2 separate regions of the Homo sapiens genome follow, and region 1 is linked to region 2. The links come from fine-mapping of genetic effects on gene expression. A gene starts in region 2. The other region holds a variant in brackets. All regions are shown on one strand. Distances are between the middles of the regions.

The links.
Region 1: its variant is fine-mapped to the expression of RHOBTB2-AS1 in whole blood (INTERVAL, PIP 0.91).

The regions. Positions count from the first base shown.
Region 1 is chr8:23,027,729-23,037,258 of GRCh38, reverse strand. TNFRSF10B (TNF receptor superfamily member 10b) reads left to right here. Exons shown (of 9, transcript NM_003842.5): 3 at 6,387-6,500; 4 at 7,538-7,649; 5 at 8,657-8,928; 6 at 9,506-9,530. Among named protein-coding and RNA genes, the nearest start is that of RHOBTB2-AS1, 33 kb to the right of the region's middle. RefSeq lists enhancers at 8,013-8,513, 8,514-9,014. The variant C/T (reference allele first, on the strand shown) is at 3,858.
Region 2 is chr8:22,994,787-23,003,946 of GRCh38, reverse strand. It overlaps RHOBTB2-AS1 (RHOBTB2 antisense RNA 1), which reads left to right and starts at 4,142. Exons shown (of 2, transcript XR_007060857.1): 1 at 4,142-4,268. It overlaps RHOBTB2 (Rho related BTB domain containing 2), which reads right to left and starts at 4,399. Exons shown (of 10, transcript NM_015178.3): 1 at 3,842-4,399. RefSeq lists an enhancer at 1-192 and silencers at 3,690-3,739, 4,070-4,239, 4,460-4,719.

The DNA.
Region 1 (9,530 bases), 33 kb before region 2:
CCATACATAACCTCCATCCCTGCCACCATGCACACTTTGTTCATGAGCCCATTGAGTGATGACAAGGATGGCTGGGAAAGAAGCTGACTGGTAGTCACAGAACAGGTCATCCTATCCACCTGATTATTAAAATCCTTCCCTGCTAAGATCACTTTTTGTGAAGATATTTGTGTCACATGGGGCACAAATATCTTCATGGTTTTTTTACCCATTGAGAAAGGTCTATCCACACACCTCTTCCCCAGACTTCCTTGTTATCAGTTTTCCTTCAGAGCCTCTGACCCTCCAGCCAAATCATTGACCACAGCTCATGAATCAGTATATAACTACATGTCTAGCCATTCTTCCCTCAAGCAAAATGAACAACCAGGTGTACTGCTCAGAGTTCTGCCCAGTGGCAGGATCTCTTTTTTTTGAGACGGAGTTTCGCTATTGTTGCCCGGGCTAGAGTGCAATGGGGCGACCTCGGCTCACTACAACCTCTGCCTCCCGGGTTCAAGTGATTCCCCTGCCTCAGCCTCCCAAGTAACTGGGATTACAGGCATGTGCCACCATGCTCGGTAATTTTGTATTTTTAGTAGAGACGAGGTTTCACCATGTTGGTCAGGCCAGTCTCGAACTCCTGACCTCAGGTGATCCACTCACCTCGGCCTCCCAAAGTGCTGGGATTACAGGTGTGAGCCACCACACCCGGCCTAGCGGATTTCTTTTCACCACTGTCCTTCAGGGACGTCCCAGACAGTGGATGTGATGCTGCAAACATCCACTTCTAAGGGTTACCTGTATGTGGTGCAGAACCATCTGTAAACCTTCTTCTGGCAACTGACCATAGGGAATTCCTCATGAGGCCATAAGTGCAGGCCAGGCAAAAGAAAGTAATATTGCAGGAGTGGGGATCATGGGCACTTGGGCCACTTCTTCATGTAACTTTCTTGTGCCTTCAGGGCCTATTTAAGCCCAATTTTGTATATATACCAATTACATTTGAAAATGGAAATGGAAACTTTAGGCTGTATGTGCCCAAACTTATGGCTTGGTAGGCAAAATAACACTCAGTTCACGATGAGCAGTCAGGTCGTAGAGTAATTTGGTGGCCTATGGTTAACCATTCAGTCTGCACTAAGGCCCAGAAACAAGCCAAGAGCTGTTTCTCAAAAGGAGAGTAGTTATCTGCAGAGGATGGCAAGTCTTTGCTCCAAAACCTAAGGGCCTGTGCTGTGGTTGACCTAGAGTGGGCTACTAAAGGTTCAAAACAGCATTGCTGTCTGCCACCAATACTTCAAGCACCGTTGGGTCTGCTGGGTCGTATGGCCCAAGTGACAGAAAAATGTCTACGGCAGCCTGGACCTGTTGCAGAGCCTTTTCTTGTTCTGAGCACCACTCAAAACTAGCACATTTTTAGGTGACTTGATAAATAGGCCAGAGAAACACACCCAAATGAGGAATATGTTGCCACCAAAATCAAAATAAGCACACTAGGCATTGTGTCATTTTCTTGGTTGTAGGGAGGTGGGGGTGGCAGATACAACAATTTATCTTTTATCTTAGAATATCTTAGAAGAGAAGGAATATCTTATGTGCCACATCATTCAACAACTAGGAATTTGTTTCCCAGTTGTTGTCCTTCTACTGAGGTAAAAGGCCCTTGAAATTTTGTCAGATTTATTTCCCACCCCCTGACATGCAAATGTCTTACCATTAAGTCTAGAATAGTTGCTACTTCTTGCTCGTGAGGTTCAATCAGTATAATGTCATCAGTATAATGGATCGTCTTGTGTGTTATCTTGTGGAAGGGAAAGGCCATCAATATCCCTGCAGGCCAGATGTGGTGGCTCGCGCCTGTAATCCCAGCAGTTTGAGAGGCCAAGGTGGCTGGGTCACTTGAGACCAGGAGTTCTAGACCAGCCTGGCCAACATGGTGAAACCTCATCTCTACTAAAAATACAAAAATTAGTTGGATGTGGTGGCACACATGGGTAATCCCAGCTACTTGGGAGGCTGAGGCATGAGAATCGCTTGAACCCAGGAGGTGCAGGTTGCAGTGAGCTGAGATCATGCCACTGCACTCCAGCCTGAGAGACAGAGCAAGACTCTGTTTAATTAAAAAAAAAAAAATACCTGCAAACTAAATTATGACATAGGGCTGCGAGTTGATGCATCCCGGAGACAGGATAGTGAGGGTATATTGCTGGCCTTGCCAACTGAAAGCAAACTGCTTCTGGGAGTCTTTATTGACAGGTATGACCAACAAAGCATTTGCCAGTTCAACACCTGCATACCAGGGTACCAGGGATGTGGCGATTTGCTCAAACAATGAAACCATATCTGGGACAGTTATAACTGGAATCACCACCTGGTTAAGCGTATGATAATCCACTGTCATTCACCAAGATCCATCTGTCTTTGGCACAGGCCAAATAGTCAAGTTCAATGGGCATGTGATGGGAATCACCACAGATGCATCCTGGATGGTGGTAATGATCTCTGCAATCCCTCCAGGAATGTTGTATTGCTTTTGTTTTTTTGTGCTTTACAGGCAGGGTATCACTCTGTCACCCAGGCTGGAGTGCAGTGGCACAATCATAGCACACTGCAGCTTGAACTCCTGGGCTCAGGCAATCCTCCTGCCTCAGCTTCTTGAGCAGCTAAGACTACAGGCATGTACTGTCATACCTGGATAATTTTGTATGTGTGTGTACAGATGGAGTCTCACTGTGTTGCCCAGGCTGGTCTTAAACCCCTGGCCTCAAGTAATCCTCCTGCCCTGACCTCCCAATGTGCTGGAATTACAGACATGAGCCACCATGCCCATCTGGTATTGCTTTTGATTTACTATTTTTTTTAAGTAAATGCAAATCTGGTGGCTTCCACCTGGTCTTTTCCACCATAATAGTCTTCACTTCACATGTCAGGGAATGAAGGTGGGGATTGTGCCAGCTGCTGAGTATGTCTATTCCAATTACACATACTAAAATGAGGAAATCAGACAGGATGGGTGTGGGGACCCACTGGCCCCTTTCTGAGATGGACTTGAGCTTAGTTTGAGTAATGACAACATAACTTCAATGGTATGCAAACACTGTGCTCCTGTACTTCTCCGTCTTTCCTCCTCCATCTTGTTGTTATAGATCACATCCTTGTACATTGTGTGCCCATTAACATCAATTTGTAATTATTGTTTTCTGCATTTGCTCTTTAAATCATATAAGTAAATAAGAGGATTTACAAACCAAATGTACCATAATACTGTGCTACAGACTGAATTGTGTCCCCAAAATCATATGTTGAAGCATTACCATCCAATGAGATGGTATTTGGAGATGGTGCCTTTGGGAAGTAATTGGGTTTAGATGAGGTCATGAGGGTGGGGCCCTCATGATGGGATTAGTGCCTTTTTAAGAAAAGACCCAGACAACTTGCTCTCTCTCGCTTGCTCGCTCTCTCTCTCCCCCCCTCTTCTGGTGTGTGCAAGGAAGAGGTTACGCAAATGCACAGCAAGATGGTGGCCATCTCTAGAACTATGATAAATAAATGTCTATTGTTTAAGCCACTTGGTCTATGGTATTTTATTATAGCAGCCTAAGTAGCTGCGTACCAGCATTTATATTTACCTAAATAGTTACCTTTTCCAGGGTTCTTTTTTTTTTTTTTTTTTTTTTTTTTTTTTTTTTTTGAGACGGAGTCTCGCTGTCGCCCAGGCTGGAGTGCAGTGGCGTAATCTCGGCTCACTGCAGGCTCCGGCCCCTGGGTTTCACGCCATTCTCCTGCCTCAGCCTCCCGAGTAGCTGGGACTACAGGCGCCCGCCACCTCGCCCGGCTAATTTTTTTTTGTATTTTTAGTAGAGACGGGGTTTCAC[C/T]GTGTTAGCCAGGATGGTCTCGATCTCCTGACCTCGTGATCCGCCCGCCTCGGCCTCCCAGAGTGCTGGGATTACAGGCGTGAGCCACCGCACCCGGCCTCCAGTGTTCTTTATCTCTTCGTATGCCTTTGAGCTATTATCTAATGTCATTACATTACCTCCTAAAGGATTCCTTTTAGCATTTCACAGGGCAGATCTACTAGTAATGTGCTCCATTACCTTTCATTTATCTAAGAAGGTCTTAATTTCTTCTTCATTCTTGAATGATAATGTTCCTGGATATCAAATTCTTGGTTGCAGGATTTTGTATGCTTGTGTTTTTGTTTCTTGGCACTTTAAATATGTTACCCACTCCCTTCTGGGCTCTATGGTTCCTGGTGAGAAATTAGCTAATAACCTTATTGAGGTTCCCTTGTACATACTGAGTGGGCCACTTGCTACTTTCAGGATTTTCTGTTGGTGTTGGGCTTTTGTCCATTTGACTATAATGTGTCTCAGTGTAGTTCTCTTTTAACTTATCCTGCTTGGAGATCATTGAGTTTCTTGGATGTGCAGACAAATGTTTTTTAAAAGTCTTGCACCTCCTTGTTAAATATCATTCCTAAATGTTTTATTCATTTTTATGTCATTGTCAATGAAATTGTTTTCTTAATTTCCTTTTTGGATTGTTCTTTGCTACTGCAAAACTTTTACGCTGAAAACTATCAAACATTGCTGTAAGAAATTTTAAAAAAGCAAAATAAACAGGAAGATATTCCATGTTCATAGATCAAAATGGTGTTAAATTACCCAAAGCAATATACAGATTCAATGAAATCCCTACCAAAATCTCAGTGGTGTTATTTTAAAAATGGAAGAACTTATATTCAAAGTCGTATGGAATTAAAAAGACTTATTGACCAAAAACAATCTGGTAAAAGAAAAGCAGAGTTGGCGGGACTCACACTTTCCAATTTTGAAACATATCCTCATTCCAGGGCAGCTTTAGTCCCCTTTTCTTTGGATCATTCTTTGACTCTATAGAGATTCCTCCCGTTTTCTTCCCATGGCTGATGGTGTGAGCTTTAATTTTGAAGGCTTTTCCCATTGTTGTATGACTTCTGCTCCTGGTGTATCTTCCACTGGCTAGGAGCTCATTCAGAACAGGTATTAGGACATTCTTCTGTGCATTTTAAAGGTCTAAGATGGCACTGTCTAATATAGTAGTCCCTAGGCCCATGTGATTGCCAATCACTTGAAATATGTGAGGCAGGTGGATCACGAGGTCTGGAGTTCGAGAACAGCCTGGCCAAGATGGTGAAACCCCGTCTCTACTAAAAACACAAAAATTAGCCGGGTGCGGTGGTGGGTGCCTGTAATCCCAGTTACTCGGGAGGCTGAGGCAGGAGAATCACTTGAACCCAGGAGGCAGAGGTTGCAGTGAGCCGAGATCGCTGCACTCTAGCCTGGGCAACAGAGCAAGACTCCGTCTCAAAAAAAAAAAAAAAAATGCTACTGCAAATTGAGATGTGCCATGAGTTAAAATATACGCAGGATTTGAAGACGTACTGTGAAAAAAATGCTGTAAAATATCTCAATGTTTTATGTGGATTACATATTTAAGTGATATTATCTGGGGTACATTAAATTAAAATGCATTATTAACATTAATTTCACCCCTTCTCACCTTTTTTAATGTGCTGAGTGTGGATTTAAATTTCATATGTGGGCTGGGCACAGTGGCTGACACCTGTATTCCTAGCACCTTGGGAGTCCAAGGAGAGTGAATCACTTGAGCCCAGGAGTTTGAGACCAGCCTAGGCAACATGGTGAAACCTCGTCTCTACAAAAAAAAAGTACACTAAAAATTAACCCGGTGTGGTGGTGTGCACCTGTAGTCCCAGCTATTTGTGGGTCGGGGGGAGAGGGAGGGTCCGGGAGGTCGAGGGTGCAGTGAGCTGAGATCACACCACTGCACTCCAGCCTGGGCTATAGAGCAAGACCCTGTCTAAATAAATAAATAAATAAATAAATAAATAAATAAATAGGCCGGGTGCAGTGGCTCACGCCTGTAATCCCAGCACTTTGGGAGGCCTAGGCAGGCAGATCATGAGGTCAGGAGATCGAGACTAGCCTGGCCAATACGGTGAAACCCTGTCTCTACTAAAAAAATACAAAAATTAGCCAGGTGTGGTAGTGTGTGCCTGTAATCCCAGCTACTCAGGAGGCTGAGCCAGGAGAATCTCTTGAACCCAGGAGGCGGAGGTTGCAGTGAGCCGAGATCACGCCACTGCACTCCAGCCTGGGTGACAGAGTGAGACTACGTCTCAAAAATAAAAAATAAAATAAATAAATGTGTGGCTTATATTTCTTTTGGCAGTGCTGGTTTAAGGTGTGTAAATGCAGAATTGATGAACTGACCAAGCTAGGTAGAGGAGATTTCCCTCTTTTGGTTCCACACATCCCTGAAAGAGGAGTCCCCCAGCCACCACTGCCAGCTTCTGGGAATCCTGTGGCATTTCATTCACCGGCTTTTCTCTCCCCTCCCAGGACACCATATCTCAGAAGACGGTAGAGATTGCATCTCCTGCAAATATGGACAGGACTATAGCACTCACTGGAATGACCTCCTTTTCTGCTTGCGCTGCACCAGGTGTGATTCAGGTACAGAACATATGGACCCCATGCCTAAAGGTGGAATGCGGGGTGATGACATAAAAGTTGTAGCTAAAATGGGATCAGGAGACCTAGATTCTGGTCCACCTTGGTCTTCATCATACCATGTTCCATGATTTTGTCTTTGAGCTTTTTAATAAATAAAACAGGCCCGGCACAGTGGCTCATGCCTGTAATCTCAACACTTTGGGAGGCATCACTTGAGCCCAGGAGTTTGAAACCATCCTGGGCAACATGAGAAACCCCGTCTCTACAAAAATATAAACATTAGCCGGGCATGGTGGCGCGTGCCTGTATTTCCAGCTACTTAGGAAGCTGAGGCAGAAGGATCTCTTGAGCCCAGGAGGCCGAGGTTGCAGGGAGCCGAGATTGTGCCACTGCATTCCAGCCCAGGCAACAGAGCAAAACCCTGTCTCAATAATTAATTAAAATAATAATAATACAGAAATTATTTGTATAATGTATGCTACATGGTAAGGAAATCTTTTAAACTGTCAGCTGCAAGGGGGTGGGGCCATGAGCCAGGCCAAGTGGACAGGGCTGGATCTCAGCAGTGGCACAGGTCTGCTTTGGGGCCAGGCTCTCTCCCCTGGGCTCTGTGCTCCTGGCAGGTGCTCGGCCTCACTCACCCTTCAGGTTCTCAGGCCTCTCCCTCCTCCCCAGCAGGCTGGGCCTTGGGGAAGTCCCCCAAGGGCTCCTCTCCTTGCAGTCTCTCAGGTGATCCCTTGCACTTCCCTTGCTACTGGCCATGCAATCTAAACGATGCTTGTCCCCTAAACGGTGCTTTCCCCTAATCTAATGTAATAAATAATGAACTGTGGTCCTTTTGTATGACTCAACGAGTGTTAGTGACAGCTGAAGGGTGGGTATCCTGAATGAGCCATGAGTGTGCTGGTGCAGAAACTGGCCCTCAGAACTCCTTGGCAAACTGAGTTGAGCTGAGTAGCAGGGTCTTGGGGTGGGGAGGAAGGGTCAAGGGACACATCAGGAAAACACATTCCCAAAACCTTATGCTCTGTCGTCAGGTGAAGTGGAGCTAAGTCCCTGCACCACGACCAGAAACACAGTGTGTCAGTGCGAAGAAGGCACCTTCCGGGAAGAAGATTCTCCTGAGATGTGCCGGAAGTGCCGCACAGGGTGAGACAGGAGCCGGGGGCTCCCAGTAGCTCCATGGAACCCCAAAAGACCCAAGTCTCCTTGTACCCCTGTCTCTCCCCTGACAGCACCCGCAAGGGGCATCCTTGAGGCTGTGGCTGCCCCTCCTGGTCCCTCTGCGTGTCACCACCCCTGCCCCCTGCAGCAGCCTCTTTCCACCCCTCCCCAGCACGAGTCCCCTTGACCAGGCTGACTTGTTCACTGACCACAGAAGGCCATGACTTGGGGCCCATGATAATTTTAGGGGCCCATGAAATGATTTAATTTCTCTTGAAATAAGAAGAATGAGTAGAATGCAGCCAGGCATATATTCATCTTTATACCAATTCAGCAATAAAATGTATTTTTTAATATTTTTATGCATGCAGGGGCCCATAAAGACAAAAGTGCCCATGGCCCACAAAAGGCATAATAAGGCCATGGGTGGAGCTCCTTCAAGTTCCCATGAGGACCTGAGCCCACCCAGCCGGCCTCACCCCTGGCCCCTGATCCCTCAGTAAGACCTGTCTTTTCCCTATTTGGGTTTTAGGGGCCAAGAGTAATTTGCTCTTCTCTGGCCCCCCTAGTATTTGCTGTGATTGGGGGAAATGGGCAGACAGCTGGGGACAAGAGCTCACTTTTGTGGTTGACTGGAAGACCGGACTCATCTTGTGGCCACACGGGCTTGTGACCTTCCCCTGGAGTGTGATTGCTCCTAACGCAGGCCTCCCCTGCAGCCCAGGGAAGCTCAGTGTGTGCCCAGCACAGAAGGCTCCTGGAACTGCAGCTCTGACCCCAGAGCAGGGAGGCCGAGGGGCTGAAGTGCGCATGCTCAGACCCTTCCCCAGCCTCAAGAAGGGAGCACAGGGGGACCCACTGCTGACACGAGGAGACTGTCCTTCCCCTGACACCTTCTCAGGGACACTGGGGAGGGAGGGTGGCTCCTCTTTCATCCCACCTGGCCAGCTTTCCATCAAGAGTCCCCCCTCTCCCTCTGTGTGTGTACCCAGGTGTCCCAGAGGGATGGTCAAGGTCGGTGATTGTACACCCTGGAGTGACATCGAATGTGTCCACAAAGAATCAGGTACAAAGCACAGTGGGGAAGTCCCAGCTGTGGAGGAGACGGTGACCTCCAGCCCAGGGACTCCTGCCTCTCCCTGTTCTCTCTCAGGCATCATCATAGGAGTCACAGTTGCAGCCGTAGTCTTGATTGTGGCTGTGTTTGTTTGCAAGTCTTTACTGTGGAAGAAAGTCCTTCCTTACCTGAAAGGCATCTGCTCAGGTAGGTGCTGGCTGAGGGCGGGGGCACAGGGCACTCTCTGCCCTGCCCCCTCCCACCCTATTCCCACAGACAGAAACGCCTGCCCCTGCCCCAAGTCTAAGTGCCTCCAGCCTGGCTCTATCCTCCTCCTCGTGGTCACCCCCATCCCCACATCCCGTGCACCCCCCAGGACCCTGGTCTCTTCAGTCCCTCTCCCAGGTCTGGGGGTCCCCATATCTCCCAGCCAAGTCCAGGAGGGCAGGGCCAGTTCCTCCCATCTTCAGGCCCAGCCAGGCAGGGGGCAGTCGGCTCCTCAACTGGGTGACAAGGGTGAGGATGAGAAGTGGTCGTGGGATTTTTTCAGCCTTGGTCAGAGCAGAACCAGAGATTTTCCAAGTGTTTGTTTTTACTCTAGTTCCCCTTCTCATCCCCCTTCCTCAGGGTGTCTCTGAGTTGTAAGGCCCCATTCTGTCCCCAGCCCCAGGGCTCCTTGTCCAGTGTCCCAGCCCCCAGCCCAGCCCTGCGCCCCACTGTCCTCTGGGAGGGGGGTGCTTCATGGGCCCCTCCCTTCCTGCTAAGGAGACTGCTTCTTTTTTAGGTGGTGGTGGGGACCCTGAGCGTGT
Region 2 (9,160 bases):
CTTGTCAGAACTGGGCAGCAGCTCTCCTGGCCTCCACTCTTTCCCTTGCCCTCTCTGGTGGTGGTGGATTTCCAAGCCCTAGCCTGCCTAAGTGCATGCTTCAACCCCAGACCCCAGTCCCCTTTATGGAGATGCAAGAGTTTTTCCTCCCAGCCTCTCTAGGATGGGGAGGTTCCTGGATGCACCTGACCAGCCCAGGGGCCTCCCTTTCTCTATTCGGGGTCTGTCCTGTTGCCCATGTGTCATGCTCAGCTACAGGTCCAGCTTTCAGATGCGGGTGAGGGGAACCACAGGCCTATGATGATACAGTCAGTGGCCAATGGGCCTCTACTTCCCCTACGGGGGGCTGTCCTCCCAGCACCCTGCCCCCAGCGTCAGAGAGTGAGATCCACCTCCACCCTCTTCTGCCCTTCCCATTCCTAGGGAGGATGATCCTCAGGCTGAAGATCCCAGGCAGCTGGCACTCCTAGGTGATGTTCACTAAACTGGCTACATGGGCGATGGGATTGCCAGAAAGCAAAAGATCAGAAATTTGAGCCTGAATTTCTGGGCAAATGCTTGCCTCAGTTGCCTTCGATGTTGAGCAGAGAGGAAGTGGCTTGTCCACCCCCAGAGAGGGATGGCTTGAATGAACAAACAGAAGGCACTTCTGTAGTCAGATGTCATGTTCGTGTTTAAAAATCTGTCGCCAGGAGGCCCTGGCCTCGGCATCCACCCTCCTGGGATTAGGGAGCAGGGGCAGGGCCAGCGTGATTAGGACGCTTGGTTTCGCCAGCGTCATCTGCCCGCCCCACTCACATTCCTGTGTGTATGAAAGTCGTCTGGGGGGGCTTTAGCAGCCCGGAGTCATCCCTCCTAGGCTAAGGAAGGCTGAGCTCTGAGTGCTGGAGGCTGCCCAGGCACCCTGGCTGCTGAGCCATCCAGCCCAGAGCCAGGCCACCAGCAACAACAGGGAGGCTCCATTCCTGCTGGGCTGTAACTGGATGCCAGCATGCAGGGATGCAGACCGAAATATCCAAGTAACGATAGCAACTGGGATCCGTGCGAGTGGATGCATCTCAGCAACCTAAGCAAAAAGTGCAGCAAGGACTTCTCAATGAGACAACCTCCTCCGCCTTTTTGGAATGTTACAGGATCTGGACCCTTCAACGAGGTCTCCATGCAGTGCCCTCATGGTCTCCAGGGCAACTGTACCACCCCTTCTCTCTCCTAACCCTCCCTCAGCAGACAACCGTTTTTTGTTTTTGTATTTTTTTGAGACGGAGTTTTGCGCTTGACACCCAGGCTGGAGTGCAGTGGCATGATCTCGGCTCACTGCAGCCTCTGCCTCCTGGGTTCAAGTGATTCTCCTGCCTCAGCCTCCCAGGTAGCTGGGATTACAGGTGTGTGCCACTATGCCGGCTAATTTTGTATTTTTAGTAGATACGGGGTTTCGCCATGTTGGTCAGGCTGGTCTTAAACTCCTGACCTCAAGTGATCTGCCCGCCTTGGCCTCCCAAAGTGCTGGGATTACAGGCGTGAGCCACCACACCTGGCCCAGAGAACTGTTAAGAACTGTTATTCTAACCACAGGCTTCCTCCTCCCAATTCTCTCTCCTGAACTGAGGACCGGGAACCCCACTTTGACAGTTCCTGATCTCAAGTTGAGGAATGTGCTGGCGCCAGGAGGCAGCATCTGGGCTGTGGTTTCTGTTTTGTCGAGTGAATACCAAAACAGATATAATCCCAAATACAAAATATGTGCAGCTGGAGGATAAAGATTAAAACCCAAGAGCCAAAAGAACTTCTTTCTCAAGTTCCGATTCTCCCAGCATGTAGGTCTGTAGACAGAAGCGGGGGAATGAGGAGGCCTAATGGAGGGATGCCAGTTCTCAAATTCAGGAGCACCTTGACAGTGAGAATAATGCCAGAACACCAGCAGAGCAGTGCTGGGCCAAGTTCAGCTACTTTGTGATGAAAACACTGCTGCCCACCTGTGCTATGTCACCTCTAGAGTTAAGCAGTGGTCAGCCAATCAACAAGTGGAAATTGACAAATACTGTGCCATGAGTTTAGACATCAGACCTTCTGGGTTGCGCAACCCCTTCCATCCATTCCCCAGCCCCTTCAGCAGTCCCCTTGTCCTTCAGCTGCCTCTCTGTTTGTATCATCTCACCCTTTCTACCCTGTCCCAACTGCCTGACTGGCAAACTTCACTGTCCTATCTAGGAAGAGGCAAGTCACTTATATTTTCTGGGCATCAGTCTCCCCCTCTGGGAAATGGGTATGAAGACATTGGAAGAGTCTCCTGAACCGTGGTTAATTTGTGCCAAGAGAGGCTGGGCTGAAAGGAGGTATTTGTCTTCTTATGTAATGTGGTATTATATAATGCTAGATTGCATATCTATATGTGTAATTATATCTGTCTTTAAGATACAGACTGGCCCAATTCAAGTGTTAGAACTCTTAGTCTAATCAGGCCTGTCTTAAAGGAGGATCCTGTCCTGGAGAGAGTGTGCCAAGAGTAATATAATTTTTGCCCTAGGATGTTGCTGATGTTGTATCATTGCTGATGTATGGTGATACAGCCCACTCATTGCTGATATATGGTGATACAGCCCATTCAGTGAGCCTCTCAGCTTCCCCTCTCCCTCCGGCTCTCTCTTCTTCCCTGACTCCAGACTCTCCCTCACAATTGCCTCATCCCCACTCAATCAACCTCCATAAACTATGACCTCCTCACCACCCAGCCCTGGGCATCACAACCCCCAACTCACTCCTCTTCCATGACAATCGCAAAGTCACTGGCATGTGTTCCTTCCATCCCTGTCCCATGATCCCTGTGCCCCTCCAAAAACAGCCTCCTGCCCACCGCTCTCCCAGCTCTTTGTACTTGGTGCAAGCCAAAACCCAAGGTGTGCTGAAATTAGCTACAAACCTCGTGCTCTCCCAGTCCCACCCCCACACCCCTACACACACTCTTTGCAGAGCTCAGAAAGGGCCCCTTTCCCTCCCACAGCTGATAGGAGGCTTGTTCATCTGTGGCTGCCCTAGTCTGGTTGTCAAGGAAACAACAGAATCTCCCTGGGAGCCTGGCTTGTCTCCTAGCAACCAGTATCCCACATCATCTTACAAAATGGGAATGGGAGGAAAATCCTGAAAATGAAGGTAAAATCAAGGGAGATGGATTGAATGGAGAATTGGAAGGAGAAGAACAAAGAGAGAGTGGACTCCTAATTCGGGGAGGCTCCCACGGGGGTCGCTGGCATTGCAAGAAGCCCCGTGCAGATCCAACAGAAAGCAAGGCCCAAAGGGACCCTGAATGGTCAGATTAAAGAAATGCAAGCCTAAACACAGATAAGCCCCCTCAAACCTAAAATGTGGACACATCACCAAACACCGCCAAAGATCTCCCCAGTAGTTTCACAGAACTCAGTTACATAGACTGCAATGGAGTTGAGTTCAAAGAACCAGCTCCGGAACCGCCAGCAAAACACCCCAATTCCACTGTTGTTTTGTGTTTGTTTTCTTAACAGAATCACTCCCACCACTCTGGACCGTTTTTCCTTTTTTCTGACACGCTACTCTGCACACACACAAAATAGAAATTTAAAAATTTTTAAACATCGAGAAGGGGGAGGGGCACGACAGGCCGAAGCAATCAAGTCATCTTCCTTTCCCTAGAAACACCGGAAAGGATTAGGCTCCAGCCCCGCTGTACCCAGCAGCCGAAGCCAGAGCCCAGGGACTAGCGGGGCCCGGGGAACGTAGCGAGGGGCGCGGCAGGGCAGGGAGGGCGGAGCGGCGCGTCTGCAAGGGCTGCTGGCCACCCCGCCATAACCGCAAGCAGCCATCTACTTACACCACTACATGTGACGGGGTGGCTTCTAGCGTGAGGAACACATCTCTTCCTGCTGAGCACGCTCATTTTAGTGAAATGTCAGGGGTCCCTCCGCGCCTGCAAGTTGGGACGACGCCGGCGCCGCCGCGCTGCTGCTGGGCTCCAGCCTCCCGGCCAGCTCGCGGCCACTCAGAAACTCCGGCAGGGCAGCCCAGGCCGGACGTGGGCCCAGGAGCGGACGCGCGCGCTGCACTGCAGCCGCTGCCCCTTCCGGATCAGCATCGCCCCGCGCGCCAGGCGCCCAATGTCACGGCGGCGCGCGGAGCCGGGCTGCGGAGGCAGCGGGCGGCGCGCAGGGGCGCCGGGAGAGGGGCGAGGCCGCCGCCGCTACGCGCCCGGGCCCGCGGCGAAGGCGCTGCCGCGAAGACGCCTGGCGCTGCAGTCCCAGGTACCGCTCGCGACCTCCTTTTTTCATTCACAAAAAAAGGATAGGGAAAAAAAAAAGAAAAGAAAAAAACGGGAGGGTAAAAAAAGGAGGAGAAAAAAATCGCACCCAAGACGACAGCCGTGACGGGCCCCGCCCACTGCCGCGCGCAGTTGGTGGAAAGCGTTCGGGGGGCGGGGAGGGGGCGGGCGGGGGAAGAAGGGGATTGGACGCCCCGCAGATCCCGCCTCGCAGCACCGCTCCCGCCCACCGCCCGCGCTCTTCCGCCCCTCCCGCAGCGACGCCGCGGGGAGGGTCTCGGCTCGCGGGTCTGGGTGGCGCCGGTCCCTCCACCTGGCGAGGCGCAAAGGCTCTCCGGACGCCCACGGGGTTTTCCCCTTTCCTTCGGGAGGCGGGGGAGAACCTCTGAGAGGCATCCTAGTGCACCCTGGAAGGGATGCTAGTTGGAGGAGAACGTGTGGTTGTAAGCCCAGGCCCCCACCACTTGCCCACGGGGAGGCGACGGCAGGGGCAGTCGGGGGGGCGGGGGGCGGGGGCCGGGTAGGGACGAATAACCGGCGTTTCCATACAAGCCCTCTGCTGCTTTGGGAATTTTCGTGGCACTTGAGAGCCTTCCTCCCTCCATGGCCCTTAATGAGTTGTGGGGTGGGTACCTGTACCACGTTACCTGTCTCCCACCTAGGCCTTCTTCAGCGGGTCCCCACCTCCATCCCATCCCCCTCCTGTTGCCTCCTGGAGTTCAGTAATAGCTGCTAATCTCTGAAAGAAACACCATGAAGTGAGTAGCCTCGAAAATCGTCCCTAAGCCTTCTTTGGGTTTTCTGCCTCAATTTACCCCTCTGTAAAATAGAGAGATTCTAAGGTATAACATCTATAACCTGAGGGGTCCCTAGAAGACACTTTCCATATTCAAGGCTGGTTTTATCAGGATAATCTTTTTTTTTTTTTTTTTTTTTTGAGTCTCCCTCTGTTGCCCAGGCTGGAGTGCAGTGGTGCAATCTTGGTTCACTGCAACCTCCGCCTCTTGGGTTCAAGCAGTTCTGCCTCAGCCTCCCGAGTAGCTGGGACTACAAGTGCACGCCACTATTCCCAGCTAATTTATGTATTTTTGGTAGAGACGGGGTTTCACCACCTTGGCCAGGCTGGTCTCGAACTCCTGACCTCGGGTGATCTGCCTGCCTTGGCCTCCCAAAGTACTAGGATTACAGGCGTGAGCCACCATGCCCAGCCAGGATGATCTTGACTGCTAGTGTTAAGTAGTCAGCTCAGTCTGGTTTGATTCATCTCCTCAGTTACCTCTGGACAATTTTTAAAGCCCAGACCAGCCTGCCACCCACCTGAACCGCCTCCACCACTCCTCCATCTTGTGCTCTGAAAATGCAAATCCACTCTAATATTAGTTTATGCAAAATATGATTAGGAAGAGAAATTTACTGCCAAAAGAAAGCCGGGTTAAAAATGAATTTTGTGTTGTCTGAAGCATGCTTCTCATCTGTGAATGCATATACTTGGAAGCTGTCCCTCAAGGTGTTTGTGATCAACGTGCCTACCTACCTGGTCAATGTACAGGAAGTGCTCGGTTGTTGGAGGATGCTTCTCCCACCCCTTTCTCAATCTACTCAGAGCTAGCCAAGAGGTTAACAATGACTGACAGTGCTACTTACTTCTCATTTCTGGTTAGAACTCACCCTCCATAAACCAGAAAGTACTTATTTGAATACATATTTAGGAGAGAAAGTAAACCATGCTCACACATGTTCTTCCTCCACATGTTTGGCATTGAAGAGACTTACCCCATCTTCTGTGTGCCAAAGAGCCCCTGCGCCAGAGAAAATCATAACTTGAGATCTCTGCATGATTCCCACGGCAGGCCAGGGTCTCTCCCACGGACACCCTGTTCCCTCCACCCACCTCCAGAGACCAGCTGAATGCCAGATGCCAGTTGACATCACCTTTCACCTGTCCTGGCAGGACCATAGCCCCTGTGGAGCAAGGAGTAGGAAGACAGAACTCCCGTCCACCCAAAGTCATGAAGCAGGAGAGGGTGGCTGCTCGGACTGTAAGCTAGAGCCAATGCCCTTTCTGCCTTGGGAGAAAAAGCCAGCTCAGCCTGGAAGCCTCAACCAGGCTGGACTGTGTGAATTCCAAGGTGTAGTGTTGATTGGGGTGGAAGGGTCTTGGACAAAAATGTGGGTGTCAAATGAAATTGCACCCCCACAGCCCCCGCCCCGCCCCGCTCACACTCAGTGAACTGTTTCAGGCAGAGGCAGGAGCTTTGCTGGGGAGGTTCCCTCAATTCCCAGCCCTGCTTTTTGCATGCAGTTCCCTCTTTCAGCCTTTCTCCAAATCAAAGTCCTTCCCCATCATTTCACCTCTAGGGCTGTCATGGTTGGCGCCCCAATCAGTTCCCTCTTATCATCAGAGTTCCTCCAAGTCCCCACCTTCTCCTACCAGTGCCCCCCAGCCCATCCTCTGCAGCCCCTTGTCACTGTCAAGCCGCCCCATCCATGTCCCACCCTAGGCCGTCTGGGGACCTCTGCAGACCTCCTCCTCAGGCCAGCCTGCGAGGAGCTCCAGCGGTTCACTACTCACAGCTCAGATGGCAGCATTCCCCACGCTGTATGAGGGGCAGACCACTAGCAAGCTGCAGCCGCCGGCCTGTGCCCCAGTTGTGGCTAAAACCAGGCCTCTTCCCAGCCAGCCCTGGCCAGGACTGCCCCGGGACCCCCACTCTGCTATTCAAGACAGCCTCCAGCCCCTGGTACCCCAGCTGAGGATCTGGCACGTCCCTTCATCTTTGCCCATCTCTCCAATGCCAGATCCTGGAAAACAGGGCCACTCCCAGAGGCCAGGCTTCCCCACCAGCAAGCAAGGTGCTGTTGGGCCTTCTCATGCCCATCCCTGTCCCCAGCTGTTAGCACCCGGCAGGCAGCAGCGTCTCACAGCACAGGAAGCCTCCCACTCCCTTCACTGCGCCCTCCCACCCCAGGCCCTGAGGAGTCCATTTTCCTCTATTCAGGTGACTTCTCAAGGCAGGCCTGGGTGGGAGACAAAAGCTCCTGGCCTCTTTCTTTCTCTGCCTCCTCCATTCCGTTACATACACAGACACACAGACACACACACACACACACACACACACACACACACACACACACACACACACACACACACACACACACACACACCAGCCCTCTCTGCCCATTTGCTGCAGCTTGGAAACACTGGTGTGATTCCGAGGAGCAGTTCAGCCTGAGCACTGACTCCCCCCATTGCTGGCTTCCCAAATCTGCTTCTGCTGGTGGGTCTGGCAATGTCCTGCCATGTGCCTGGCTGCGTGGCTGTAGCCCAAGGGCTTCCTGGCAGCATGGAGGCAGGTTCCATTCTACAATCTCCTGCCCCTGCCCAACCCCAGCATCTCTTCCCTCACCAAATCCCTCTTGTGACCCACCTCCCCAGTGACATAAACCCCTGGAACCTGTCCCCAGAAGGCACCCCCTCTATGCCTCCCCACACCACCCTCCTCCAGGCCATCACGCGGCTGCTGTTTTCCTGAAGCCGGGCAGATGCCTGCCTGTGAACAGGAGGCTTTTCTGGGGAAAGAGAAACCTCCATCCTGGCTCTTAGCAAAGCGCAGCAGGCTCCCCGGCCAGTCCCACCAGCGTTGCTCTCCCTGTGGCTGTGAAGGCCCCTTCCCAGTGCCAGCCCAACGCAGACCGCCTGGCTCAGTCCATCCTCCAACCTGCACCTTCCCTTTGCTTCACAGGCAGCTTTACCCTTCAACACTTTGCAGGCTACTAACCGCGCTTTCATGGCACCCCTCTCCTGGAACACTACAGCCTCTGCGGAGCCCACCCCATGGGCCTTGTGACATGAGCTCCGCCCCCCATCCCCTGCCATGTGCAGGCTGGGGCACGTGGTGTTCCTACCCTGCAGCTGGGGCAAAGTTCAGAACCAGCCATGAGCAAAAGCAGAGGCATTTCAAGATGCAGAGCCCCAGCAGGGTGAAGGAGCTGAATCTGGAAAGCCTAGAGTCTCTCAGCCTCCCTGTCCAGGCCTTAAGGGACACCATCAGGTCCCCACAAGGATACAGGAAGCTTCTGGGACTTTGCACAAGCAGTTCTTCAGTCCGAACACTCTATTTCTACTCCTTTCACCAGATAAATGTGTACTCATCTTTCAAGTCTCAGCCTAGATATCACTTCCTCCAGCAAGCCTTCCATGAATACTTTCTTACACTTGACAAAGTGTAACTTTCCTGTTCTTCCCCTGTGCTCCCCTAATAATACCAATCACACCAATCTATCATTGGGTTCTTCTCTGTCCTTGATTGTACTGAGAACTCCCTGGGACCGGCAGGGGAGCTTTCGTAAGAGCCAGGATGCAGATTTCTCTTTCCTCAGACAAGGTTCCTGCTCACAGGCCAGGAAGCAACACTATAATGCTTGTTCAGGCCGGGTGTGGTGGCTTATGCCTGTAATCTCAACACTTTGGGAGGCCGAGCTGAGAGAATAGCTTGAGGTTAGGAGTTGGAGACCAGCCTGGGCAATATAATAAGACCCTGTCTCTATTAAAAAAAATTTTTAAAAAAGATAATGCCTATTCGAAAAGGTATTTTGAACCTGGCGCGGTGGCTCATGCCTGTAATCCCAGCACTTTGGGAGGCCAAGGCAGGTGGATCACCTGAGGTCAGGAGTTTGAGACCAGCCTGGCCAACAAGGTGAGTCCCCTTCTCTACTAAAAATACAAAAATTAGCTGGGCGTGGTGGCATGTGCCTGTAATCCCAGCTACTCGGGAGGCTGAGGCAGGAGACTCGCTTAAACCTGGGAGGCAGAGGTTGCAGTGAGCCGAGATCACGCCATTGCACTCCAGTGCAGTGGGTGAAGAGTGAGACTCT